Linked DNA regions of Homo sapiens. The protein of the gene in region 2 purifies or fractionates together with the protein of the main gene of each other region. This does not show direct contact. Each region holds a gene or a part of one and is shown on either strand. Other genes may lie near its edges.

Evidence for each region.
Region 1: the proteins of ZBTB46 (region 2) and FBXL17 purify together in Homo sapiens (affinity purification with mass spectrometry; 3 studies listed by BioGRID and IntAct, with this or other methods). This does not show direct contact.
Region 3: the proteins of ZBTB46 (region 2) and EHMT1 purify together in Homo sapiens (affinity purification with mass spectrometry; 3 studies listed by BioGRID and IntAct, with this or other methods). This does not show direct contact.
Region 4: the proteins of ZBTB46 (region 2) and AP2A2 purify together in Homo sapiens (affinity purification with mass spectrometry; 3 studies listed by BioGRID and IntAct, with this or other methods). This does not show direct contact.

Annotation. Positions count from the first base shown.
Region 1 is NC_000005.10:108,358,096-108,365,120, reverse strand, and holds part of FBXL17 (F-box/LRR-repeat protein 17), read left to right. Parts: intron 1-125; coding exon 126-383; intron 384-7,025. UniProt on the Homo sapiens protein: Substrate-recognition component of the SCF(FBXL17) E3 ubiquitin ligase complex, a key component of a quality control pathway required to ensure functional dimerization of BTB domain-containing proteins (dimerization quality control, DQC).
Region 2 is NC_000020.11:63,744,242-63,751,266, reverse strand, and holds part of ZBTB46 (zinc finger and BTB domain-containing protein 46), read left to right. Parts: intron 1-3,965; coding exon 3,966-4,337; 3' UTR 4,338-7,025. UniProt on the Homo sapiens protein: Functions as a transcriptional repressor for PRDM1.
Region 3 is NC_000009.12:137,614,868-137,622,024, forward strand, and holds the start of EHMT1 (histone-lysine N-methyltransferase EHMT1), read left to right. Parts: upstream 1-4,137; 5' UTR 4,138-4,161; coding exon 4,162-4,182; intron 4,183-7,157. Other genes in the region: ARRDC1 (arrestin domain-containing protein 1), read left to right, coding at 1-225. UniProt on the Homo sapiens protein: Histone methyltransferase that specifically mono- and dimethylates 'Lys-9' of histone H3 (H3K9me1 and H3K9me2, respectively) in euchromatin.
Region 4 is NC_000011.10:928,853-935,877, forward strand, and holds part of AP2A2 (AP-2 complex subunit alpha-2), read left to right. Parts: intron 1-4,672; exon of another isoform or gene 4,673-4,745; intron 4,746-7,025. UniProt on the Homo sapiens protein: Component of the adaptor protein complex 2 (AP-2). Adaptor protein complexes function in protein transport via transport vesicles in different membrane traffic pathways.

The DNA.
Region 1 (7,025 bases), on a different chromosome or scaffold from region 2:
TTGATTATATCGTTCATGCTATAATCTAATTAGTATATTGTTTATTGTGGAACATTTAATTAAAAAATGGAAAATACGTTTTTATTTTTAGCAAAAGTTTAAATTTATTGCTTTTTCTCTTACAGGTCACTGATGAATTGTTGGAAAAAATTGCATCAAGAAGTCAGAATATAATTGAAATCAACATTTCTGATTGTCGCAGTATGTCTGATAATGGCGTATGTGTTTTAGCATTTAAATGTCCTGGACTTCTTAGGTATACAGCCTACAGGTGTAAACAGCTTTCTGACACCTCTATTATTGCGGTTGCCTCTCACTGTCCTTTACTTCAGAAAGTGCATGTAGGCAACCAGGACAAACTCACTGATGAAGGACTCAAGCAGGTAAATTTTAGCATTTATAAAGTGATTTTACTTGAATTAATTAAAAATGTTTTCTAGCAACAACATTTTAAATGGTTACGTTAAAAATAGTTCCCAGAGACTCAAGTGAATCATCTTTTTTACCTATTAATGAATATTTGTTTAGATTAGTTAACTAGAGTGCCATGGTTATAATCAGTAAATTAACTGCTTTGTTTTATAGTGAGAGCCTGAACTTCTGTGACCAGCCATTTTATAAATTTATGCTTTTGTTACTTAAATTTTTTACCACATTTTGCTTTGGGCAACTGCGTAGTTTTGGTCAGCATGAGGTTTTAAAAATTAACATTTTAATTCCCCTTTTATTATACTAGATGACATACATGCTTAAATATCTGAATGTTTAAGGGATAAATGGACGTCCAAATTGAAGATTATAAAAGTTAGAACAAAGGCCTAATTACCTCTATTTGGTACAATAACTGGGTTAAAAATAGTATTATGCATACCTTCTGTTTATTATACTTCCTTTGGAAATGGCATTTAAGGTTTCTTGGCTCGGAGTGGATTATTTATTCAACAGATGAATATCCTTAAATTTAAACCTTATGTATGAATTAACTGAAAGCTTGGTATGAAAAGAAATTTGGGAAGACTCTATCCTAAATAGTGAGTACTGGGTGTGTCAGTACAACTTATATATTAAGAATGTTACCAACTTATAAGGGAGCCTATTTTGTTTGCAAAGGCATATTGTGCAAAAAGTCTTATTTGTTTTAATATTTTTCTTGATTCATTTCTGCTATGTACAGGATTATTTACTAGCAAAGCATTTCATGAAGTTCTTAAACATATTAAATTAATCTTTTATGAAGAAATATATATTTTGTGTATATAGCATGATTTTATTTACTTTGATGGAAATTTCTCAGCAATTTATTTTTCACAATGAAACATTTTAAAAAGGTGTATGTATTAAGAACTGGATTAAATCTATTTCATATTTAATTCTGATATAACACAAATAGGTAGTAGTTTAGCAGACTTCTTAGGGTATACCTAGTAATTTTTGTGAAAAAGAATAAGATCGTAGTCATGGTTGAAGTAGAGAAGGAGCAACATTTAATATGCTAATCAAGTATTATGAATTTATCTTATATTTACAACTTTGAGAGTAATTATGTAAATCTTCTCTAGAATGTGAGGTATTTTGGAGCCTGTTACTTAGATGTTTCCTTCGGATATTTATGGTTTCTGAATTATGAATTAGTTACACGTGAGGTAATATTCTGATAAAAGTAGCAAAACAAATTTTTTTCCCCTTAGGTAGTTTTCTTCTTAAGTAATTACATAGGATCTCATTGCAGTGTAGAGAATATTTTTCTGTACTTAAGACCGCTATAGCTGGGTATGTCTGATTTCATAATAGACTCTTTCCTCTGATGGAATAGTGTTATGGGTATAGTAGAAAGAGAATGGCTTTCATATATACATAAAATAGAAATTAAGTTTTATGAAACAATACACATCCTTATGTGCAATGCACATGGATATTATCTATTCTGTTCTATACTATTATGTTAAATGTTGGCCTTGACCCACTCACTAAATTAATTTTATGACCTAGTGATATTTCATAAATCCGAATATGGATTTATATTATGGTTTTAGTAAACTGACAGTGCTATGTTAAAATGTATAATAGAGTTACGAAAGCCTAAGAGGGAACTAGCCATAATTGATGATTTGCCTGGGACTGTTATTTTTTCTTGAACTCATTAATTTAGCAATTGACTGAATTGTTGATTCTACAGATTAAGTTGTTGCAGGGTTCTGTTTTTTCCCTCTTCTGTCAGTAAAAATTGAGAAATGTTTTAGAATGATATATGTAAATTTTATTGATAATTTCTTTAGAATATATTTTCTTTATAACTGCTATAATTTTGATTGACTTTAGCGGATACCAAATATGTGTGCCTTTTGAATTCTGTCAGTTTGTTTACAAAAACAGTTGCTTATAGCATTTCAATTTGGAGCTCTAATAGATGTAGACTCTAATGTTTTAACTATTGGATTCTGCTTAACAATATTTCTTAAGCATGGTGAAGCACCTAAAAAAATCAGGCTGGTTTTGGTTGAATACTATCCTCTTTGTGAAATACCACCCTGAAATATTTATATTTTTATTTTCATAATAGTCACTCAAAATAATTTTACCAGTGGAATGTGTTCCTATTGTATATATCTTTTAAAACTACAATCATGTATCTAGAGGAAAAATCTATTTAAGAATAAAGGGCTGTTTCAATTTTCCTAATATTTTGTTATCATCTAGCACTTGCCAGTAAACAAACGATAATAGTAGTCAAAGTATTAAAATATATCTAAGAAATTGTATGCATTGTTACTATATTATGTGACTCAATTATATGCAGTTTTAGCAGTTTAACACTCCAGCTCATGGAGCTCAGTAGAAATTTCTGTAAATAAGTCACTGTAGGCTTTTTTCAGATAAAATGGTACAAAAATAATAAATGTTACATTAGTAAATTTTGATCTGGCTATGCTATCAATTTTTAGGTCTTTAAAAATAACTACTTAGAGTACTATCAGCAAAATGTTGGAGCAGGCAGCTCCAAAAGCCTGCCTCTCCAAAAAAACATTGAAAAACAAGCCTAAACTATCAGATCCAACTTTGTCAGAACTCTGGAAACGTCAAAGGTTTATAGCAACCAAAGGAATGCTAGACAAGAAAAATGCAACTGAAAGGTGGAAAGAATGCTTTGTGGGTTTTTTACTTGCCTGTGCCTCACCCATTCCCCAGCTTGGCAACAGTCTTGAAGATAGCAGTCCGAGTTCCCAGTGTGGGACCCAGATCCCTGGTTCCAGAGGGAACAGAGCAGACCTTATTTGCAAATTATTCATTTGTCTGATCAACCTACCTGAGAGCTATTTGAAGGGCTGATGCAGGTGCTTATATATCTGTTTTACCTAATTTAGAACCCAGTCAGGGAGGAAAATTAGTGGGCATTGATTGAACACAGTATAAGGCAAATGAAAGAAACTTGCTTTTGAGCAAGCTTCTTTGGGCAATAGATTATGGTGAGACATACAATTGACCTAGGAGAAAGAGCCTGGGAGAGAGTTTGTTTTTATTTTTGTTTTTGTTTTGAAATTAGGACAATCAGCCTCAGTGTATAGAAGGGAATTTTGAAAGCCGCATGCATGCCCAGGGCAGGACACTTGTTCAGGAACGACCTAAGAAGACTGTAAACTTTATCACTGTGTGCTTGCTAGGTCCAGTACAAGCAGGAAGTAAAGGCCAAGGCAGAGTTGTGAATGGTATGGCTAAGTCTTAAAGAAATATCCCAGCACAGAGCCAGTCTGCAAAGACTTGAATAAGTGCTTTTGTTTTTTGTTTTAGTTTTGTTTTTAAGCTTTGGCATCCAAGGAAATCTCTTTCAAAACACTGGCTGAACACAAGCTAAGCCTTGATTAATCAAAAATAGTGAAGCGTAGGGAAGTGGGGAGAATCTAATTTCCCAAGTTACCACATTATAATCTAATATTTTAATATTTAGTTTTCAACAATAAATTACAAGGCATGCAAAGAAAAAAGTATTACCCATTAAAACAAAAAAGAATAAATAGAACCCATTCTTGAGGAAGCCTGGACATTGGATTTACTAAAGATTTTACTAAAGATTTTAAATCCATTATCTGAAATATGCTCAAAGACATAAAGGAAACCATGGCCAAAGAAATGAAGGAAATTAGGAAAATAATGTATGAACAAATTGAGAATGTCAATGAAGAGCTAGAAATTATGGAAAGAACCAAATAGAAATTCTGGAGCTAAGAAGTACAATAACTGAAATAAAACATTTACCAGAGGGATTCAAGAGCCGAAGTGAGCAGGTGGAAGAAAGAAGATAGGACAATTGAATTTATTGAGTCTAAGAAAGAGAAAGAAAAAAGAGTGAAGAAAAGTAAGTAGAGCCTAAGAGATGGGTGGGACATCCATCAAGCAGAAAAACATTCACATTTTGCTAATTCCAGAAGGAAAGGAGAAATAAAAGGGGCAGGAAGAATATTTGCAGAAATAATGGCCCAAACTTCCGAAATTTGGTGGAAGATACGCATCTATACGTCCAAGAAACTCAATAAATTCAGGGAGGATAATGTCAAAGAGATATACACTGAGACACATTATAGTATAATTGTCAGAAGTCAAAGACAGAATCTTCAAAGCAGCAAAAGATAAGTGACTCATCACATACAAGCACTCCTCAATAAGATTTACAACTGTTTTATCATCAGAAACTATGGAAGCCAGAAAGCTGTGGGCTAACAATATTTAAAGTGTCGAAAGAAAAAAAAGTCAAGCAAGAATTCTGTATTTGTCAAAACTGTTAAAGAATAGGGGCACTCAAGGGGACATTAAGATATTTCCAGATAAGCAAAAGCTAAAGGAGTTTGTTACTAATAGATCTGCCCTACAAGAAATGCTAACGGGAGTCCTCCAGGCTGAAATAAGATGCTAGATGGTAATTGAAAGCCATATGAAGAATAAAGAAAACTGATGAAAGTAACTACATAGAGGTTGAAAGGATGGAAAAAGATATTCCACACCAGAAGAGAGCTATAATAGCTGTTTTATTATCCAAAAAAACCAGGTTTTAAGTCCAAAAGGGATCCAAGAGACAGAATTATTATATATTGATAAATATAAAATATTAATCTTTCAGGAAGATGTAGCAATTATAACCACATATGTACCTAACAACAGAATCCTTAAAATATATATAGCAAAAATTGAAAGACTTGGAGAGAGGAATAGACAGTTGTACATTAATCATTTGAGACTTAAGTAATTCACTTTCAATAATGAATAGCACAACTAGGAAGAAGATTAACAAAGAAGCAGAGGATGAACAGTACCATGAACCCACTGCACCTAGCAGATATGTACAGTACACTCAACAACAAAAGAATACACATTCTTCTCAAGTGCACATGGAACAGTCTCACAGATAGACCATATGTTTGATCACAAAACAAGTTTTATACATTTAAAAAAGATTGAAATCATACAGTGTGTCTTCCCTAACCATAATGGAATGAATCTGGAAATCAATAATAGAAGGAAAATTGGAAAATACACAGATATGTAGAAATTAAATAACAGAGTCTTGTACAACCAATGGCTTATAGAAGAAATTACAAGGGAAATTAGAAAATATCTTGAGATGAGTGAGAATGAAAACACAGCGTTCCAAAACTCAAGGGATGTAGCAAAAGCAGTGCTCAGAGGGCAGTTTATAGCTGTACAATCTTACATTAAAAAAGAAGATCTGAAAGCAGTAATCAAAGCGTACACCTTGAGAAAGAAGAGCAGGCTAAACCCAAAGTTCGTGGAGGGAAGGAAATAATAACCAGACCAGAGATAAACATGATAGAGGACAGAAAAGCTATGGAAAAAAATTATTGAAAACCAAACTAGGTTCTTCGAAAAGATTTTAAAAAACTCTGACAAACCTTTAACTAGATTGACTAAGAAAAAAGACTCAAATTATTAAATCATAAATGAAAGAGTAGACATTACTACTGACTTTATAGAAATTAAAAAGGATTGTATGAGAAAACCATGAATAACTGCATACCAACAAATTGGATAGGCTAGAAGAAATGGAAAAATTTCTAGAAATACAGAAACCAGAAAAACTGACCCAAGAAGTAGAAATTCTGAGTTCCAGCTACTCATGAGCCTGAGGCAGGAGGATTGCTTGAGCCCAGGAGGCTGAAGCTATATTCACTGCACTCCAGCTAGGGCAATATAGCAAGACCCCATCTCTTAACAAAAAAAGAAAAAGGTAGAAAATTGGAATATATTTATAATAAATAAGGAGATTGAATCAGTTAAAAAAATTTCCAATGAAGAAAGACTAAGGACCATAGCTTTGATGGTGAATGTTTTCAAATATTTAAAGAAGAATTAACACCAGTCCTTCTCAAACTCTTTCAAAAAAATTGAAGAGGAGGCAACACTTCTTAACTTATTCTGTGGGGCTAGCATTAGCCAGCCCAAGACCCTACAAAAATGAAACTACAAAACAAACAACAGCTACAGACAAGTATCTTTAACGAGTATGTAAAAATCTTCAAAATGCTAGCAAACTGAATTCAGCACCAGATTAAAAGGATTCTACACCGTAACCTACTATGATTTATCCAAGGAGTACAAGGGTGGCTCAACATACAAATATCAATCAATGTAATATACCACATTAAGAGAATGAAAGGAAAAAAAAACCAGTCATCTTAATTGGTGTGCAAAAGCATTTGGTGAAATAAGCAGCCTTTCTTGAAAAAGCAAAGCAAAACAAAAACCTATCAAACTAGGAATAGAGTGATGCTTCCTCATCATAATAAAGACCATATGTGACAAACCCACAGCTGACATATTCAGTGATAAAAGGTGGAAAACTTTTTCCTTAAGATCAAGAATAAGACAAGAATGCCTGCTTTTGGCAATCCTGTTTTACATTGTGCTGAAAGTTCTAAGGAGCAATTTGGCAAGAAAAAGAAATAAAATGCTTCCAAATTGGAAAGGAAGAAGTAAAACTATTTGTATTCGAAGATGACATTATTTTATGAATAGAA
Region 2 (7,025 bases):
AGGCCAGAAGCAGACCCACATCCACGCGGAGCCGCCGGGGCCCCAGCCTTGTTTTCCGTAGCGGAGGATGTGCTTCTGTTCACACAGGCCACAGGGCTGATCTTACAAACCACTTATAAAAAGCCGCGGGGGCGGGGGGAGGGGTAGCTGCACCAGGCCGACATGTTTCCTATTCAGAGAAAATCGCATCTTGTTTTTTAAACTGATAGGTGCTAACACGTTTTAACAACATGGATTGCAACGTCTTTCTTCAGCAAATCCGTATTAACCTCTCAGTAAACGTTTTGATCCTGTTTGAGGTTCAGTGTGGCTGCCTGTTCCTTCTCGTTGGATAGGGTTAGGGTTTGTTTTTTTGTTTTTTTTTTGAGACAGGGTTTCACTGTGTTACCCAGGCTGGAGTGCAGTGGCGTGACACAGCTCACTACAACTTTGACCTCCCGGGCTCAAGCGATCCTCCCACCTCAGCCTCCCAAGTAGCTGGGACTACAGGTGTGCACCAACATGCTCAGCTAATTTTTGCGTTTTGTGGTGATGGGATTTCGCTGTGTTGCCCAGGCTAGTCCCGAACTCCTGGCCTCAAGTGAGCCACTTGCCTCTGCTTCCCAAAGTGCTGGGATTACAGGTGTGAGCCACTGTGTCCGACCAGGGCTGGGATTTTTGTCCTGGGGTTCATGATTGGGCTTCAGGGGGTCATAATTCCCTGGAAAATGTACTTATAACATATGGAAAGCCAAGTGTGGTGGCACATGCCTGTAATCCTAGCACTTCGGGAGGCTGGGGCAGGAGAATAGCTTGAGGCCAGGAGTTTGAGACCAGCCTGGGCAAAATTGCGAGACTCTGTCTCTACAAAAAATTAAAAAAAAAAAAAAGTTAGCCAAGTGTGGTCCCAGCTACTTGAGAGGCTGAGGCAGGACGATCACCTGAGCCCAGTGAGGTCCAGGCTGCAGTGAGCTGTGATTGCACCACTGCACTCCAGCCTGGGCAACAGAGTGAGACCCTGTCTCTAAAGAACAACAAACACAAGCAAGCATATGGGGCTTGACTTTTTCTGAGGAGAGGCTCTGTGTGTGGCCTTCTCTGGGGTCCTGGACCTGAGAGCGTGGAGACCCGAGTGTGAGACAGCAGCTCTAGCCGGTCCAGCCTCCACTTTCACGATGGCACTTACGAGCACTGTCAGCCCTTCCCTGGCCTGGGTGGCCCCTCCACCCGCTCCAGGAAGAGCACCAGTGGCTGGGGCAGGGCCCCCCATGCCTTGGCAGGGCCACATTTGGAGGGTGGGCCAGCCGTGCTCTTGCAGCCACAGTGCCCCAGAGCCTGGGCGGGCTGCCAAGGTGTCCCGTCTTCCTTCTTGCTTCCTTCCAGGGCATTTGCCCATTTGCATGAGTTCCCAGCCATCCAGCCCTGGCCACATGGTCCCTGTGCCACCCCAAGCTGCCCCTGCTGCCTCCTCAGGTGCCCTGGCCCCTGCACACATGGGAGCCTAGGCCTCAAGGGGCCTCAGTGTTTTTCACTAGCCCCGCTCCAACCCTTCCTGGGCCTGTGTGCACCAGGTTACTGTGCTGGGAAGTTTCTACTGTGGCTTGTCTTGAATTTTTGTTCTGGAAGTCCTTGGTTTAAAATACAGCAAAACAGGCTGGGCGCGGTGGCTGACGCCTGTAATCCCAGCACTTTGGGAGGCCAAGGCGGGCAGATCACGAGGTCAGGAGATCGAGACCATCCTGGCTAACACGGTGAAACCCCGTCTCTACTAAAAATACAAAAAATTAGCTGGGCGTGGTGGCGGGTGCCTGTAGTCCCAGCTACTTGGGAGGCTGAGGCAGGAGAATGGTATGAACCCGGGAGGCGGAGCTGGCAGTGAGCCGAGATGGCAACACTACACTCCAGCCTGGGTGACAGAGCGAGACTCTGTTTCAAAAAAATAAATAAATAAAATACAGCAAAACAAAAGCCCAAAGGAGCAGTTCTGGCACCAAGTTGTCTGAGGCTCTGTTTCTAGGGTTAGCGTGTTTGGGCATCTGAGGTGTGCTGTGTGGTGCTGCCCTGGCCCTGAAAGCCACCAGCTGCCCCTGAAGGTCTCACATCCCTGGACAGCGCCCATCCCGGTCCAGGCTTAGAGCTCACACAGTTGCTCTGGAAGCAGACATTTGAGAAGTGAGGTCTTTATGGTTCCCGGCTTTGTGGAAGAAGTTACAGGCACCTCTGCCCTCAAGGAAGCGGGTCTAGAAGGGGAGGTCGGGCCGTGCTGGGTGGCCTGTCGGCCTGTGGATTCGGAACACTGAGGCAGGAAGTACGTAAGGGCCCGGGTCCAGCCCCAGGATGGGGAGGTGGTAGCTGTGGTGCCTGCCCGTCAGAGGTCTTTGCAAGTGTAGCAGGACCGTCTTCCGCCATGACACACATTGATTATGTATGTACTTGCTCATGGGAGAAAACTGGTGAGTTTGGAATGGTTTAAGGAAGAGCTAAACTCACAAGCACATCCCAGCCTCAGTTCTCCGTGCAGCCTCAGAGGTGCTGCAGGCCCCGGGAGACAGCCCTGTGGATGGAGGGAGGAGCCGAGGGGAGCCTGGGGTCATTGCCGGGTTCAGCCTGGAGGACTGACCTGAGGCCAGCCCACCTCAGAGAAGCCCCTCGTGTGGACTTGGCCAGGGGCCAGGGGTTGCTATTGGGGTCCTCTGTGGGTCCTGCCCTCTCGGTCCTTGGAGGGCAGAGACAGGGGCTGTGCTGTGAGGGATCAGGGCCAGCCCCCCAAGGCCTCCTCTAGCTGGCGTGGCCGAGGGTGCCCGTGAGTGGGTACAAGGGCCACCTCTCCCCATCCCTGGCCATGTCTGAGGTCTGGTTCTGCACAGCACAGGTGTCCACACCCACCCTCAGCGGAAGCCCACCTGGGGCCACATGTCCCCAGCAGTGTGTGGTAGTTCCCTCAGGCCTTGAGGCCAGTGCTGAGACCCTCCAGGAACCCAGCACCTCGCGTCCTGCCACATGGGCCCTCTTCAGGGTGCTGCCCCATCTCCCTGCCGGGCCCAGCACAGGGCACAGCACGACTGCCCTCCCTGGCAGCCACACCTCCTCCTCTGACCATAAGTGCTCATCTCTCTTCTTGCATGTCTCAGTCGACCTTGAAACAGCCTGAGAGTGGGGGAGTTGCCTCCTTTACACGTTCCTGGAGTCAGGGTCGGGCTGAGGGGTCAGGGACTGAGGGGGTCAGGGGCTGAGGGGGTGTCCACGCAGCCAGGCTGAGGTGTGGGCCCACCTGCCCGGCTGGCAGCCCCAACCCCGGCCCGTCCCTGTACGGCTGGGTACAGGAAGAGCTCTGTGAGCTCCAGTCCAATGCGGGGCCCTCAGCCTGTCCTGCAGGGAGGTTTGGAGGAAGCCAGGCTTTTAGGCAGAGGCCGGTGGTGTGACCCCCGTGAGAAGTGTGTCAACCCAGGGGGCCTCTGGTGGGGGTGCTTGGACACACAGTGTAGACGCTGAGACTGGCCCACCTAGGGGCTGGGTTTGCGGGGGAGGGGCACTGCCGCCCTCGTGCCAGCATCCCCTTGGGACAGGGCTGCCTTGGTGCCACCTGCAGTTCTGCTGTGTGGCTCTGATAGGAGCTGGGGCTCAAGGTCTGAGCACTCCTGTCTGCGCACCTCCCCCACCAGGAGTCTCTGCCTGTGCAGACACTCGGAGGGCCCGGGAGGCTGTGCCCCCCCAACCCCAACCGGGCCCTGCTCACCCCCGCACCCCCCCCACCCACCAGGCCCTGCTCACCCCCTGGCCCCCCTCCCAACCTCCACCGGGCCCTGCTCACCCCCTGCCCCGCCCCCCCCACCTCCACCAGGCCCTGCTCACCCCCTGCCCCCTCTTCCAACCTCCACCTGGCCCTGCTCACCACCTGCCCCCCCCACCTCCACCAGGCCCTGCTCACCCCCTGCCCCGCCCCCCAACCCACCAGGCCCTGCTCACCCCCTGCCCTGCCTCTGCAGGTCCACAGCAAGGACAAGAAGTATGTGTGCAAGGTGTGCAGCCGCGTCTTCATGTCCGCCGCCAGCGTGGGCATCAGGCATGGCTCCAGGCGCCACGGTGTGTGCACCGACTGTGCTGGCCGCGGCATGGCCGGGCCCCTGGACCATGGCGGCGGAGGCGGCGAGGGCTCTCCAGAGGCGCTGTTCCCAGGCGACGGGCCCTATCTGGAGGACCCTGAGGACCCACGAGGGGAGGCGGAGGAGCTGGGCGAGGACGACGAGGGCCTGGCCCCTGAGGATGCGCTGTTGGCGGACGACAAGGATGAGGAAGACTCGCCGCGGCCGCGCAGCCCCCCAGGAGGCCCTGACAAGGACTTCGCCTGGCTCTCCTAGGCCCGCCCGCCGGCAGGGTCGGTGGCTGCCTCGCTCCGTCCACCCGTGTGTGTGTCCGGTGGGTCTCCACTGCGGGGCCAGGGCCACGCTCACCCCTCTCGCGGCCCCTCCTCTGCTTCCCCCTGAACCCACCCCCCACGGAAACCAGCCCTGCGGGCTAAGCAGGTGCGACCCCAGCAAGAGGGGTGCTCTGGGACCAGACATGAAGTGAGTTGGGGGAGGGCACAGGGTGGGTTTGAGTGAAGGGAGAGCACGGTCCTAAGTCCCCAGCAGGTGGTGCGGGTGTGTGAGTGGCCCCTGTGATGGCCAGCCTGGCTTGGACACGTGATGGGCCTGTGGCCGGGTCCAGTGGGCACTGGGCGGGGTGGTGTGTTCGGCCCAGAGGCCCCTGGCCTGAGCAGGTGCAGAGTTTTACAGACACCCGGTCAGCCCGGCTGGAGCCCGCCCTCCCCTCCCCTAGCAGCCAGGTCACTGCCTGTGGCTGCAGCCGTGGCCCGTGGTGCAGCCGTGGCCCATGGCAGCCTGTAGAATCCAGGTGCACAGAGAGCCCTGCCACCGTCTTACCTCTGGGCTTTGGTGCTTAACACACAACACAGCTGCAGACCCTGCTGGAGGCCGAGGGCTCCAGGTGCTATCTTAGGTGGACACAGCCCTGGGGGCTCCTTCCAGGAGGGGACCCTCAGCCCTGTGCCCCCCACCACTTCAGGCCACACCAGGTTCCCTCTGCAAGGGCCTCGGCTCAGTCGTGTGCACTTCCTCGGAGAGCCTTGGGCTGCCACGTCCACCCCGGGCTCTGCCCGTCCTGTTCTGCCCATGGCCCAGCCCGGCCGCTCCTGCTGACCCCTCCTGGACGGGCTGGAGCTGGGCTCCTGCCTTTGCTGCTAACACTGGAGGCGGTGTTCCTAACTGCAGTGTGCTGCTTACACCTCCCCGCGTGGGTAACCAAATTTTTAAGTAGTCAGAGACATATCGAGGTAGTTACATAAAATTATTTTGTTTGGCATTATTTTTCTCACTCGAAGAAACTATATAGGGTTGTTTTTCCTTTAGCTTGTGCTCAAGTCCTCTTGCTGTGTTTTCAGAAGCACTCACATGTTCTTTCTTTTCCTGAGTGAAAAGCAAAGGTCCCACGGTGTGTGCTGTGGTGCACCGCCTGGCTTTGGGGGTCCCGGAGGCAGGCTGCCTAGACTCACAGCCTCGGGACCGTTGCCACGGCCTGTCTTCTCGTTCAGGCCTGCCTCTGACAGCACTCACCATGAGGACATTCCATCCTTCACCCCCTCCTCTGGCACAGGCCACCACTGCGGTGCTGTGCCTTCAGATGGGAGGTGGGCGCGGTGGCCTCCTCCTTCCCTCCAGGACCTGCCCGTGTGAAGACCCCCCGGAGTGCTGAGCTTCAGGGCTGCGTGGAAAGAGTTTTTACTCTCTTTTTCTAGCCTGTATACCAGGCTTTTCCCCACATTGTCAGGTAGAGCACCAGCTTCCCTGACCGCTGCTGCTCGGGGAGGGCTGGGGCTGGCCGGGGGTCCTGTGGAGGAGTACATGGAGGACTCCAGGTACAGCGCAGGAGTCACGGCTTTTGTTTTTTGACATTGGCCCCCGGTTCTACCAATGACAGGGTGCCCTGGCTGGAGCTGTCATCACACACACCCCTCAGCTCGGAGGCTGTGGGCTCCTCAAAGCTGGAGAAAGAGGCCAAGATTTTTCTGCACACGGAGTGTGGGGATAGGAGCCGGGCCAAGCGCTGGCCCCTCAGCGGTGAGCCCTGCCCACTCTTACCGAGCAAGGTGGGTGGCTCTGGCACGAGTCCCCCAGGGGGAGAGCATGGCTACCAGGGAGCTGCAGCGGAGCCCTCCAGCCCTCACCCCAGGCCAGCCCCACCCCGGCCTCTTTGAGAATTCTCAGAACTTTGTACCTTTCCCCTGATTTTTAAACCCTTTTTCTAAACAGACTGACTTTCTTACAAAATGCATTTGGAAACCAGACCTTTGCTACCCACCAATGTCTCTGGGTTTTGTACCAGTCCCTGCTCTCAGGCCACCCTGCCCAGGACCCAGGCCCGCCTCCCCCTCCACACTCAGGATGTCCTGCTCCATCTGGCCGGCTCACTCCGTGTGGCCTGCCTTTGCTGACCGTTTTGGGGTTCCCCGCCGGAGCTACAGGGGCATTTTCTTCCCTAAAACCAACAGTGTCCCACTGACCTCCCCAAGTGTTTGCTGCGTGGCAGATTTCCTGTTCTTGTTCGCAGTTTGCCGACTGAAGAGTGTGGGATTTCCGAGGCCCAGGTGAGCACGTCCATCTCAGGAGGCGTGGAGGGAAAAGACATGTCATGAAGGGTTTTTTTTATGTGACTGATTTTTTTTTAAATCGATGTTCAAACTAATAAATATTTTTTTATGAAGAGGAAAAATGTGTAGATTACATTTCACATTTTGTATTTTTGTTTGTGTCTGTTTGTATTTTGGTGTTTACAACACCAAAGTGGGAAATACAGTCCATTGGGGATGGTGTTATTTGGGGGCGGGGAGGGGGCAGGGACACCACGATTTTTCTGTCAAGCTCTGGATCCTGACCAGGTTGTACACTGGGGCTCTCTGAGCTTTGGGACACAGGACACTGCCAGGGCTACGTAGGGAACTGACTCAGAAGACGCAGCTTACTGCTTCCAACTTTGCACATCTTCCTCTT
Region 3 (7,157 bases), on a different chromosome or scaffold from region 2:
CCGCTGCACCCTCCCTTGTGCATTTCAACAGGTGCCACTGTCCCCTACTTTGCAGAGGGCTCCGGGGGGCCAGTGCCCACTACCAGCACCTTGATTCTTCCTCCAGAGTACAGTTCTTGGGGCTACCCCTATGGTGAGTCGACAGCCAGGGCTTGGCAGGGAGGGGACGCCAAGAGCCCCACGCAGACCCTGCTTTCTTCCCGCAGAGGCCCCACCGTCTTATGAGCAGAGCTGCGGCGGCGTGGAACCCAGCCTGACCCCTGAGAGCTGACCCCGTGCTGCCTTCTCCAGGCAGGCCTGGCCTCTGCCCTGGGACTGGGGCGCCCAGGGCCTCGTGCCTTCTCTCTTGGCCTAGCCTGGCCCACTCAGGACCTGCCCAGCCTCTGCCAGCTCCTCTGGCATCCGCCCTCTTCTCCCTGGGGCTGGGGTGGGGGTGGCAGGGAGCTGGGACCTGGAGAGACAACTCCTGTAAATAAAACACTTTATTTGTAGAGCTGGGCCTCACCGGCCTCGCCTTGGGCACCCTCCAGCCTCTGGCAGGGCCTGACCCTGACCCCATCCTGGGCTCTGCTCATGCCAGGGCAGACCCTGCTCCTCAGGTGCCCCCTACTACCCTGGGGGCGCGCTCAGGCTACCATGCCTGGGCGGAGCCGCGGGGCTGGCTCCCTTTAACAGAGGACGGGGGCTGGCGCTGGGCCTTCCAGAGCCGCCTAAGGACACGTCCTTGGAGCCCGGCTCATGAAATGGGGCCTCACGCAACCTTGGTGTTTGGTTAAATTTGTGCCTTGGCTCCTGTTGCGTTTAGGCACCCAGGTTCCCAAGCGGTGTGGTGTGGACCTCCCCTGCTGAGAAACCCGCTGGCGCGTGGAGGGGCTTGCCCAGGTCCCTCCGACAGGAGACCCTGCTCCCTGGGCCTTGGCCCCTGCTAGCACCACTGCCAGGCCTGGCTCTGAGGGACGCTGCTTCTCCCCTGCCCACGTCTCCAAGGCCTGAAAGGCAGGGTTCTGTGGAACAGCATTTCTCAAAGGGGCATCCTGCAGACGTTCCAGCCCCAGGGGAGGCCCCGTGATGCTGGCTGGCCTGCCTGGAGGGTGCTTCCAGAAACAACGGAGATGGTGGTGAAGAAGGCTCTGGGTTCAAATTCCAGTTCTCCTTTAGGGCGAAGGGGTGACTGTGGCTAGGTTTGTCAGTTACCTTATCTATAAAATGCACAGGACCAGGCCGGGCACGGTGGCTCCCTCCTGTAATCCCAGTACTTTGGGAGGCTGAGGCAGGTGGATTGCTTGAGGTCAGGAGTTCCAGATCAGCCTGGGCAACATAGTGAAACTCCATCTGTACAAAAAAAAAAAAAAAAAAAAAATAGCTGGGCATCATGGCACATGCTTGTAATCCCAATTACTCAGGAGGCTGAGGCAGGAGAATCGCTTGAACCCAGGTGGCAGAGGTTACAGTGATCTGAGATTGTGCCACTGTACTCCGGCCTGGGTGACAGAGCAAGACTGCCTCAAAAAATAAAAAAACAAAACCCCACAAAAAACTCGTGGGACTGTAGGGTACAGCCCCCCACCCTCATAGCATGACAGTTTATTTCTTGAACAGTCCAGAGGGGGCAGATCCTGGCCTTGTGGCAGAGTTGTCATTCCTACATAGTGGTTCCCATCCCTGGCTCCCAGATGGCTGTTGACAGCTTTCACCACTGCCCAGCCTAATGGTGGGACTTTTGAGGGACAGACTGGGAAATGGATTGTCACTTTTTGTCTCTGACCTGTCCCCTTCCTGTTGGAAATGTGGTCTTTAGCCAGGCAGTCCTGTACTTGGCTAAAATTTTACTAATTGTGGGACAGGCAGCATGAATATTGGAGAACAGCAGAAAGTGTACCACAGGTGGGGTCATCTGTGAAGCGCCTCCTGGAAGCAGTGCAGTATATGGTTGAAAGGAAGGCCTCCTGGGCTGAATCCCATCACTGCCTCTCACCACTCCCTTGCTTCAGTTCAGTCACTTATAAAATGTGGGTAAGAACAGTGCCTGCCTCTCAGGACTGACCTGAAGTCTGCAGTGTTAGCATGTCACGTGCTGAGAGCAGCATCTTGACATAAGTGCTGAGGGGCACACAAGGGTAGCAGCTGATGGAAAAATGGAGTGAAAAAGCTGCCTGCAGCTGCTTCCCACACCTTCACTTAGGGTGGATGTTTGCTTGGTGAAGGATTTTTCTTCACATTCTAACTCCCTTTATTCAGTCAACAATTTTTTTGTTGTTGTTGTTGAGACAGAGTCTTGCTCTGTTGCCCAGGCTGGAGTGCAGTGGCACAATCTCAGCTCATTGCAAGCTCTGCCTCCCGGGTTCATGCCATTCTCCTGCCTCAGCCTCCCGAGTAGCTGGGACTACAGGCGCCCAGCACCACTCCCGGCTATTTTTTGTATTTTTAGTAGAGATGGGGTTTCACCATGTTAGCCAGGCTGGTCTCCATCTCCTGACCTCATGATCTGCCCACCTCGGCCTCCCAAAGTGCTGGGATTACAGGCGTGAGCCACCGCACCCGGCCCAGTCAACAAATATTTTGTCTCCTGTACACCAGGTATTGTTCTAGGCACCATGGACTTACATTCTAGTAGGGAGACAATATTCCAAATCAGGATGTGGGAGAGTCACATGACACACACTGTGATGGAGCCAAGTAAGTCAACGAAGACAGGTATGGGGGGGCAGTATCATTTTAACTAGGGAGGAGAGGGAAGGCTTCCCTTAAGAGGTGATATTTCAACTCAAGGATGGTAAAGAGGGAAGCCACAAAGACACTCGAAATAAAGGTTTCAGGGAAGGGACAGACAGCAGGGGTGGCGGAGAGGTGGGTGCGGGGCAGGAGGGCCATGAAGGCGCTCGTGTCTCCTGCGAGGGCTCAGGGTGCTCGGCCTGTCATAAATGGACTTAGGCTTTGACAGAGCAGTTTAGCTGCCCTAAAGAAACCTGGGAAGGTTCCCTTGGCACTTGGGATTGTCCGTTTCCTTTTCTGTCTATGTGCGCTGTCTATGCTGGACTTGAGATAATTCTCCGGAGTCCGACTCACCAGGAGACTCGGGTGTCACCCAGATTGACCTTCAAGGCTCATTTCTTGTCAGTCCAGTACCCGTCCCCTCGGTTCACACGACCATCCAGAAACCTCAAATTCAGTCCATGCTTCTTGTTTTGGGTCTCGGGGCTGGGATAAGGCGGGCTGACCACCGCGGGGCATGTAGGTAGTTTCCGTGGTGCTGGGGGCGCTCTCCAGGGAAGGCTACTTGGTCTGCAGAAAAGGCCTTGACTTGTGCATACCTGGGCAGCGGGCCTATGAGTGGCAGCGAGAGCGGGGTAACCAGAGAGGGCACACCCCCCAACCGGAGCGCCCCCCAGGTTGGCATCTCCACAACTGTAGAACCTCCCCCATCAGGGCAACCCTCCCGATTGGGACACCGCCCCCAGCCAGACACATCCTCCTAGCAGAACACCCATGCTTAGCCGGAGCCGCTCCCCCGCCAGACACCTCCCCACCGGGAAACCCTCCCCAGTGGGACACCCCAGCCAGTCCAGGTATTCCCGCCGTTAGGGACACCCCCTCCAGCCGGAGCATACCCTCGGCAGGGGCATTCCTCCCAACCGAGGGAACCCCGCCGCAACGGGAACCTGCCTGAACCAGAGCACCCTCCCGCGCCGGGGACACCCCACAGGCGGCTCCCGCGCCAGGCCGCGGCCCAGGGAGTCAGCCTTCCGCGCAAGCCGGCGAAATCAAAGTGCGTCCGGGGTTAGAGGTCAGAGGTCGGAGCCGCGGGTCTTTCTCCTTCTTCGGCCAGCCCACCAAAACGTCAATTTAGAATGAGACATGTGTTGAAAATGGGACGGCTACTCCCCATCCACTACTACGACTCTGGCGGGCGGGTTCTCCAGCTCCAGGTCTCCTACCCCGCGGGCGCGCGTTCCGGTTCCGGCCGCCGCAGGCCCGGCGCCTGGGGCGCCGCACGCCTGGTTCCAGTGCGCAGGCGCCGCACCGGTCGAGCTCCAACGCGCAGGCGCGGGCGCAGGCGCAGGCGCAGACGTAGGCGATCGGCCCCGCCCCGACTCTGGGCCGCGAGGCGCGGGCGGGGCGATGGCGCGCGGGAGGGGCGGGGCCACGCTGCGGGCCCGGGCCATGGCCGCCGCCGATGCCGAGGTGAGCAGCGGGGCCGGCGGGGGGCGGCGCGGGGGCGGCGGGCAGCGGCGGAGGCGGCGCGGGGGCGAAGAACCGGGCGGGGCGGCGGCAGGCGGCCGGCGGGCGGGCGGGGCCCCGGGTCCCCCCGCCGCCGCCGCCGCCGCTGCCGCCGCCTCAGGCCGAGGCCGGGCCGAGGCCGCCGGGCGTCCGGCCCGCGCTCCCGCCGGGCGCGCTTTGTGCGCGGCGCGGGCCGGGCGGCGGCTGGGGGAGCGGGCGGGGGCGCAGGTGAGGGAGGCGACCGCGTACCTGTGCCCGCGCCCCCCACGGACCCCGTGCCGCCGCCGCCGCCCGCAAGCCGGATCTGCGGGGAGGGCCTCGGCCAGGGTGCCGGGGAGGTGCGGAGGACAAAAGGAAAAGTAGCGGGGCCGGCCAACTTTGGAGCGCCGGCCGAGGCGAGGCTGTCCCTCCTCTCGGAGCTCTTCCTTCGCTTCGTTGACCTTTCACTTTGTTCTGAGTAGGATGGCACCATCTTTAACGAAAAGTTGGCCAGTCCCGGCGTGTTTCTCCCCAGACAATGCTGCTCCAGCCCTGCTGGCTGTCAGAAGCAGGAAAGCACGCTCGGTGGGAAGCTTGCGGACTCAAGTTTATTTCCAAACCAGCAGCTTTAAAGGGCTCTCGATGTAAAAAGTTCACATTCTTTTGTTAATGGTCTCGGCCTTCCCCGTGCTCATTCTCAAGGATAGTTTGTTTCCTTGCTTAGGAAAGGAAGCAGCGTAGAGATTAAAGTCTTGCGAGTGGACCACTGGCGTCCCTCTGAAGGAAAAGCAAGCAGGAGGTGGTGTGTCCGTGGAGATGCAGAAATAGTGTGGTCCTAGGGCTGAGATAAGGGACCGGTTTGGAGAAAACTGTCAGCGTAGAAGTATTTCTTTGAAATTAACTGTCTAGTAACAGTTGAGACTTCTAAAGCTTAGAAAGTTAAGGTGTAGTAAGAAGCCGTACAGTATCCTGGTGCATAGACTTAACACTGTATTTTAACTCAGGTAATGTATGGCCTTTTTGTTTATTTTTTTCCTGCATTTTTGGGGGGTGTTGAAATAAGTAAACTGGGAAGGTGCAGGGGAATTCTTAAATTCAATGCAAGGAGTTTTTGCTGAGTATCTGCAGCATTCAAGGAATTAATATTAGTCACTGAGAACAAAAAGCGAAATTAGAAAATTTCAAGTCACTTCTAGGCTTGTAGGGGAGAAGACGTGTAGTGATGAATTCTATCATTTATGAAGTACCCACTGGATCCCACACACTGTGCAAGACCTTTAGATCAGGCGCCTCCCTCGGTTTTCTTCACCCTGTGCAGCAGGTGCTGTTATTTCCTTTTTTAAATTATTATTTATTATTATTATTTTTTGAGACAGGATCTCCCTTTGTCACTCAGGCTGGAATGCAGAGGCATGATCACTGCTCACTGCAGCTTCGACCACCCAGGCTCAAAGGAGTCTCCCACCTCGGGTGCTGCCACACCTGGCCAATTTTTTTGTATTTTTTTGGTAGAGACCGGGGTTTCACCATGTTGCCCAGGCTGGTCTTGAACTTTTGGACTCCAGCGATCTGCCTGCCTCCGCCTCCCTAAGTGCTAGGATTACAGACATGAGCCATTGTGCCCGTCCTGTTGTTTCCTGTTTAGCTGAGGAGGAAGGGTTAGATAACTTGGCCAGTCGGTTGTAGGACCAGCACTAGTACAGTGTTGGGCACGTAGTAGGTGTTTAATACATGACCGATGAGCAAATGGCTCCAGATGTCTCTGGTTCCATAGGCAGCCTTGAATAGGGCTTTACACACCTGATGAGAATGACAGCCTGTGTTGACTGAGCCCTGACTTGTGTCCAACCCTGCCATAGTGCCAGTGCCTTGCATGAATTCAATAATTTGAGCCTAGCAGCAACCTTAAGAGGTAGGTACTGTTACCTCCCCGTTTATAAATGAGAAGACAGGCGCAGTGAGGCCCAAGATTGAAGAGCTTGTGGCCAAGAAGATGGAGTTGCAGGTGGTTTGGCCATAGAGCTGATGCTTGCTAAATGTGTTATATCTGTGATGGTCATTTTAGGTTAATAAAAGCTCTGTTTTTAGATTGATAATTCTAAGGGTTTATCATCAAGGTGTATGAGAAGGTGAGGGAGCCCCTGTGTGTAGCGCAGCAACTCTGGCCTTCTGGACAGTAGGTAGGCATGTGATCACTGTTGTCACTAAACCTGGGAAATGATTCCTGGGTCAGGGTTCATTAATTGCCAAATGATTAAAGTAATAAAGCTGACACTGGAAACTTATCTAACTTCATTTCTTTTCCTTGATTTACAAAGATAGTCAATACATTTTCCTACCAAAAAGAACTGGCCAGCCGTGGTGGCTCATGCCTGTAATCCTAGCAGTTTAGGAAGCCGAGGTGGGCGGATCACTTGAGGTCAGGAGTTCGAGACCAGTCTGGCCAACATGGTTGAAACCCTGTCTCTACTGAAAATACAAAAATTATCTGGGCATAGTGGTGTGTGCCTGTAATTGCAGCCTGGGCAACGGAGTGAGAGACTGTCTCAGGAAAAAAAAAAGAAAAAAAACTACTGAGGTAGTTGAATATATCCTCCATTCCCCATTTGTGGATTAGTTAGTAAATGGGGCATCTTAGGGTTTAAATATGTCCAGGGTCACTGAGGATCAGATCCTAGGGTTCCTTTGACTCAAGGCTTTTGTCTCAGCAAAACGTCACCTTCCAGCAGGAAGGCTTTCTCAGGCAAGTAGCAGGGTGGCTACTATGTATCGCTTCTTTATTTTTTCTTTTTTAAAATAATGCAGGCACGTGCGCATAATTTAAAAAATCAGTGCTAAAACCCTTAAAAAAAAAAGCTGTTCTCATCTCCTGTCTTTCTTTTTTTTTTCTTTTTATTTTTTTCTTTTATTATTATTATACTTTAAGTTTTAGGGTACATGTGCACAACGTGCAGGTTTGT
Region 4 (7,025 bases), on a different chromosome or scaffold from region 2:
CCTCCTGGGCAGTGTCTTCAGCTTGTGGTGCTGCTTTTCACCTGAGTGGCCCCATCTCCCCCACTGCCCTCTAGGGTGGCCTCTACAAGGTGCGCACCCTATCTTGCTCATCACATTTTTCCTGCTGTTCTCCTCATGGCGAGCGTCTGGCATGCGAGGTGCATGCCAGAGAAGACCTCACAAGGAAGGTGATTCTTGGGCAATTCAGGCAGAAGACCAAGAAGGTATTAGAGGAACAGCAAATAATTAATGTATATACGTATTGAGTTAATGAATGTTGGCTGGTGCCTGGAGACGGGATTGGAGAGCCAGCCAGGGTTTGAGCTGATCTGAACTTGACCTCCATGTCACAGGCAGAGGGGTCCCCGCTTCCCCTTTCCCTGGCCAGCTCTGATTTTGTGTGCTGTTTTCCTGTCATGAGAGTGAATGATAGGAGTAGTCGGGCCCTGTGGAAAGAGGACTCTGAGCCAACAGCCAAGGCTCTTGACCCTGACTCTGCCTCTTAGCAGCTGCATGAGTGGAGGCCACTGGCCATGGAGCCTCAGTTTCCACAGCGGACAGTTGAAGGGCTGGATTTTCAGCTGAAATATCATTAAAGCTGCGTGAGTGGAGGCCACTAGCCACGGAGCCTCAGTTTCCTCAGCTGACGCTTGAAGGGGCGGATTTTGAGCTGAAATATCGTTAAAGCCTGTTTCAGCTCCAAATTTGCGTCTTTCTGACCAGTTTCTTAAGTTTTCCTCCTTTAGCCTGGGCAATATAGTGAGACCCCTGTCTTTTCAAAAGAGAAAAAAGAATTAGCCAGGCGTGGTGGCACGCACCTGTGGTCCCAGTTACTCAGTGGGCTGAGGTGAGAGCATTGTCTGAGCCCTGGAGGTTGAGGCTGCCATGAACTCGGATTGCGCCACTGCACTCCAGCCTGGGCAGCCTGAGGAGCAGATTGAGACCCTGCCTCAAAAAAAAAGTTTTTCCCCTCCAAGACCTGGTGCCAGCCGGGTGCGGTGGCTCACGCTTGTAATCCCAGCACTTTGGGAGGCTGAGGTGGGCGGATCACCTGAGGTCAGGAGTTCAAGACCAGCCTAGCCAACATAGGGAAACACTGTTTCCACAAAAATACAAACATTAGCTGGGCGTGGTGGCATGCACCTGTAGTCCCAGCTACTCCGGGGGCTGAGGCGGAAGAATCGCTTGAACCCAGGAGGCGGAGCTTGCAGTGAGCTGAGATTGTGCCATTGCACTCCAGCCTGGGTGACAGAGCGAGACTCTGTCTCAAAAAAAAAAAAAAAAAAAAAAAGCCCTGTGCCAAGTATCTGAGGTAGCGGACAGGGAGCATGTGGACACTAGGATGCTCTGTTTTCACTTCAAGTAACCCACTCCCAGCAGACTGGCTTGGGGCATTACTCCTCTTAGCATAGGCAGCAATGAATATGCTCCAGGATTTGAAAAGGTGCCTCGTGTCAAGCTCTGCCCCTCAAAGTTGTAGCTTTTGTGGCTCAGGTAGTGAACTAACTTAATGTCTCCTAAAATTAACTTCATCCTTTCTGATTGACGTCAACCCAGCGGCCACTGCATTTGGTCAGCATGCATTCAGTGTGTGAGAGTTAATAAACTGTTTCTTTTTTTTTAAATTGGCATTAAAAAAATTCTAGTCCTTTTATTTAGTCCCAGTTTTAGAATTTTTTTTTTTTTGAGACGGAGTTGCGCTCTGTCGCCCAGGCTGGAGTGCAGTGGCGCGATCTCGGCTCACTGCAAGCTCCGCCTCCCGGGTTCACACCATTCTGCTGCCTCAGCCTCCCGAGTAGCTGGGACTACAGGTGCACGCCACCACGCCCGGCTAATTTTTTGTATTTTTAGTAGAGACGGGGTTTCACCGTGTTAGCCAGGATGGTCTCGGTCTCCTGACCTCGTGATCCACCGGCCTCGGCCTCCCAAAGTGCTGGGATTACAGGCGTGAGCCACTGTGCCTGGTGCCCTACCTTTCTTAATGTGGACATCTTGCATAACTACAGGACATATTCAACACCAGGAAACAGACACTGGTACACACCACCAGGCATATTCAGATTTCGTTAGATCGACATGCACGTGTGTGTGTGTGGTTCTATGCAGTTTAGCACCTGTAGCTTTGTGTAACCGGTTCCCTACCTCAGTCAAGATACAGAACTATACCATCATCACAAAGCTACCCCTTATAGCCATACTCCTGAAACTAATCTGTTCTCCATCTCTGTAATTTTGTGGGCTCAAGGATGTCATATAAAGGGAATCACATCATATGTGATCTTTTGAGATTGCTTTTTTCCCCCTCAGTACAGTCCCATCGAGGTCCATTCAGGCTGGTGCATTGATTGACATTGTATTTGAGCAAAAGATACCGAGAAAACAAAATAACTGCTGAAATTGGGGAAACAAGACCATAATTATTTGCTATTTATTCAGTTATTTTGGAACTTTCGTTTGTTTTTACACAAATGACATATCTGCAGAGGAGAGTTGTATCTAACTTAGTGAATGCATGTCTTTATGCATTGCTGTTGACATGCCAACACTAGAATATTGTTGGAGAGACACAGCACTGCTGAAAATGTTGTCAGGCTCTGAGAATTGACTGCAAAACAATCAGGACTGCAAGGAAAGGGAAGAAGTGATAAGTCCTTTTGAGACCGGTCAGTTTGCCAGGAAAACAACTTCAGGCAGGAAATGACCATTTTTATTTCTCTACATGTGGTGCTGGTGTGGTGCAGATGCTTGGAGGCGTTTTCTTTAACCCCCCCAGGTCCTCACATGAAGGGGAAACAGATGGAGAGATGTTATTAGCAAGATGGCAAAAATGAATTTCCATGGTCTTGAAGAAAGTGATACAGTTTTGCTGCAGGTTTCACGATAAATTAGAAAAATTATCAGTGCTCTGCTCATTGTGGTTGGCATAAAACTTGGTCCCTTCCATTTCTTGTTTTTTTTTTTTTTTTTTTGAGGCAGAGTCTCCCTCTGTCACCCAGGCTGGAGTGCAGCGGTGTGATCTCGGCTCACTGCAACCTCTGCCTCCTGGGTCCAAGTGATTCTTGTGCCTCAGCCTCCTGAGTAGCTGGGGCTCCGCCACCACCACGCCCGGCTAATTTTTTGTATTTTTTAGTAGAGACAGGGTTTCACTGTATTAGCCAGGATGATCTCGATCTCCTGACCTCGTGAGCCACCACGCCCGGCCAGGTTCAAGTGATTCTTGTGCCTCAGTCTCCCGAGTAGCTGGGATTACAGGTGTCTGCCACCACGCCTAGCTAATTTTTGTGGAGACGTGGTTTCACCAAGTTGGTCAGGCTGGTCTCGAACTCTTGGCCTCAAGTGATCCACCTGCCTCGGCCTCCCAAAGTGCTGGGATTACAGGCGTGAGCCCCTGTGCCTGGCCATTTCTGTTAACTTTCTTGAAATTAGATACCCTTTGAATTGTGTTTCAGTGGGACTAAAGTTAAATTTTATTTGTTCATGCAATTCCAGTTATGGAGTCATAAATTAGATATGGAGAAACTGAACACTAAATTTTAAACTCTGCTTAAACTTCAGTATAAAAATTAAACATAAAGTTATACTGATTTTCGTGCAGACGAGTGAAGATCAGCATCAGAATTGGTCAGTCTGCTTTTGCATTTCTTAAATAACCTTCACAGTTAAAAGCTCATTTTGTCCTTTTGACTGTACATTCCTAAAAAGTGCTGACTCTTAGAAAAGAATGCTCTCCTTGCATGTCTTCTTTTGCATGCTTCTGCATAATGTGTGTTCCTTAGAAACCAGTTTAGGAAATGTGTCATGGTGGCTATGGAGAGAAGGAAGGAAGTCCTTGCTCGGGTTGAATTTTTCTTGCCAAGGTTGGTGGTCACTGCTTCTGGGACACCCTGGTTCTCTTCACAGTGTTTTCCGTCTGGCTCCTCTGAAGGTCAGGATCACTTTCTTTTATGACAAGTTGAAGTGTCCTGGTGGTGAACATATTTTGTGCCAGATACTTACTATTACTTCTCTTTCCTCTTAAAATGAACTGTTACTTTTGGTAACAATCTGTGTCAAGATTTTGTAGTAGAAGAGTTCCTGGAAAGGCTGTCAGTGAAGGATTAAATGGCATTTCCTTGGCTCTTAAAAAAATCAAATACGCCGGGCGCTGCGGTTCACGCCTGTAATCCCAGCACTTCGGGAGTCCGAGCCAGGTGGATCACCTGAGGTCGGGAGTTCGAGACCAGCCTGACCAACATGGAAAAACATGTCTCTACTAAAAATACAAAATTAGCCAGGTGTGGTGGCACGTGTCTGTAATCCCAGGTACTTGGGAGGCTGAGGCAGGAGAATCACTTGAATTTGGGAGGCGGAGGTTGCAGTAAGCCAAGATTGCGCCACTGCACTATAGCCAGGGCGACAAAGTAAGACTCCGTCTCAAAAACAAACAAACAAAAAACCCCAGAAATGAACAGTTTTTACCAGGCCACATGATGTCCCAGACTTAGATTATAAAACCACATTTGCTGATTCTGGCAGCATGTTCCTTCTTCAGAACCTTCCTGACTTTAGCTTGAAAGCTGAGCTGGTTGAAACGTCTTGAAAAGCAGTATGTGCAGTTTTGTCACGAGAGAATTTCCGGGTGGGTGGGATAGGTTGAGGTGGGTGTTCCCGTGTAGAAGTGGGGGCTGAAGCTGTGTGGTAAGATGAGCTCTGTGCTTGGGACAGGGTTGTAAGGGTCTGGCCAAGACGCATAGAAGAAATAGCATGTGAGTAGGAAGCAGCCCTATTTTAAATAGCGCCCTGGAGACTTGAATTGGGAAGAGGACCAAGAAGAGTGTGAGGCAGTGAGATGCCCAGCACCAGGGTGGGAGAGGCGAGTTCCAGTGACTCGTGGGCACTCAGGAGCGGGGATGACCCCAGAGACACAGGGAGCTTGGAACCATGCTTCTGTATTCAGACATGACTTTCTGCCAGCTTTGCACGCTTTTTCCTGAAACATTGTTGGCAGAGGGGAACTTGTATCTTCTGTTCAGTTGATTCTCGATTTTAAACGTTTGTTGCCTTTTGGAGCCTGCACTTCCCCTTACCTGGTGATTGGAGTGTGGGAATGGTTGGGGGTATCAAGGCTTCAGCAGGCTGGGAAGGTGGCAGGAGCACAGGGTGCCAGGGGTGGGCTGAGGGGCTGGTGGGTGCTCCGGGATTTTAGGAGGAGTGCTGTGCCCACAGCTGCTGTGTGTCCCTGAGGCCAGGGAAGTCCTGACTCCCATGCTAGGTTCTTTCTGCCCCATGTAGCTCCCTCAGCGCCCCCACCCCGATACCTCAGGAAACTCCAGGTCGAAACTCCAGGTCGAGTGGCAGACCTCCTGCTGGGTGCGTTCTTAGGAATAACACTTCTAGCCGGGGGTTTGGGTCAGATCCTGATTCTACTCTCCTTTGTTTCCCACTTTTAAATTTTTTATATTTATATTTAAAATTTAGAGACAGGGTCTCACTATGTTGCCCAGGATGGTCTTGAACTCCTTGGCTCAAGTGATCCTCCCCCATCAGCCTCCCAGAGTGCTGGGATTTATAGGTGTGAGCCACTGCGCCCAGCCCTTTCCCACCTTTTCAAATTGTAGCCCTGTCGAGAGCCTGGAGTCTTCATCTTTGCCTGAAATTCAGACTCCGAGTTGTGATGGTTTTGTGTTCATCTCTGTGCTTGGCTTCAGGATACTCCCCATTTACCTTTCTTCTCACCCACCCTAAGCTTTGGTGTCTGTCTACGGGTTTGCTTAGAAGTGTAGAGACCAACAGCCAACATGGGGTGCCTGGCTTTTGTTTTTGCGTTGTGGGGTGTTTTTCTTACCTTTAAAATCCCTCTGATGGCAGCACAAGGGTGTAATGAGGATTAGTTATTTAGCATATCTAAAGAACTTTGAGCTCCTTAGGGCAGGCGGCACTGTATTAGGATTTATGTTTTGCTTTTTCTGTGGACCGCCTTTGTGTTTCATGTAATGTAGCTGAAATAGCAAGTACGTGTTTCTTTTCTTTTCTTTTTTTTTTTTGGAGATGGAGTCTCATTCTCTCACCCAGGCTGGAGTGCAGTGGCGCAATCTTGGTTAACCGCAGCCTCTGTCTCCTGGGTTCAAGCGATTCTCCTGCCTCAGCCTCCGGAGTAGCTGGGATTACAGGAGCGCACCACCATGCCCGGCTAATTTTTGTATTTTTGGTAGAGATGGGGTTTCACCATTTTTTTTTTTTTGAGACTGAGTCTTCCTCTGTTGCCAGGCTAGAGTGCAGTGGTGCGATCTCTGCTCACTGCAACCTCTGCCTCCCAGGTTCAAGTGATTCTCCTGCCTCAGCCTCCCGAGCAGCTTGGACTACAGATGCGCGCACCACCATGCCCGGCTAATTTTTGTATTTTTTTTAGTAGAGACGGACTTTCACCATGTTGACCAGAATGGTCTTGATCTCTTGACCTTGTGATCCGCTAGCCTCGGCCTCCCAAAATGCTGGGATTACAGGTGTGAGCCACCGCGCCCAGCTGGGGTTTCACCATTTTGGCCAGGCTATTCTCAAACTCCTGACCTCAAGCAATCCACCCACCTCGGCCTCTCAAAGTGCTGGGATTACAGGCATGAGCCACTGTGCCTGGGCGGTTTTGAATTTTTAGTAGAGACAGAGTTTCGCCGTGTTGGCCAGGCTGGTCTTGAACTCCTGACCTCAAGTGATGCGCCTGCCTTGGGCCCCCAAAGTGTTGAGATTACAAGTGTGAGCCACTGTGCCCGGCCAGTTTTTTTTTTTTTTTTTTTTTTGAGATAGAGTCTCGCTGTGTTGCCCAGGCTAGAGTGCAGTGGTGTGATCTCGGCTTACTGCAACCTTCGCCTCCCGGGTTCAAACAATTCTCTGTCTCAGCGTCCTGAGTAGCTGGGATTGCAGGCACCTGGCTAATTTTTTGTATTTTTAGTAGAGACGGAGTTTCACCATCTTGGCCAGGCTGGTCTTGAACTCCCGACCTCGTGATCCACCCGCCTTGGCCTCCCAAAGTGCTGGGAATTACAGGCGTG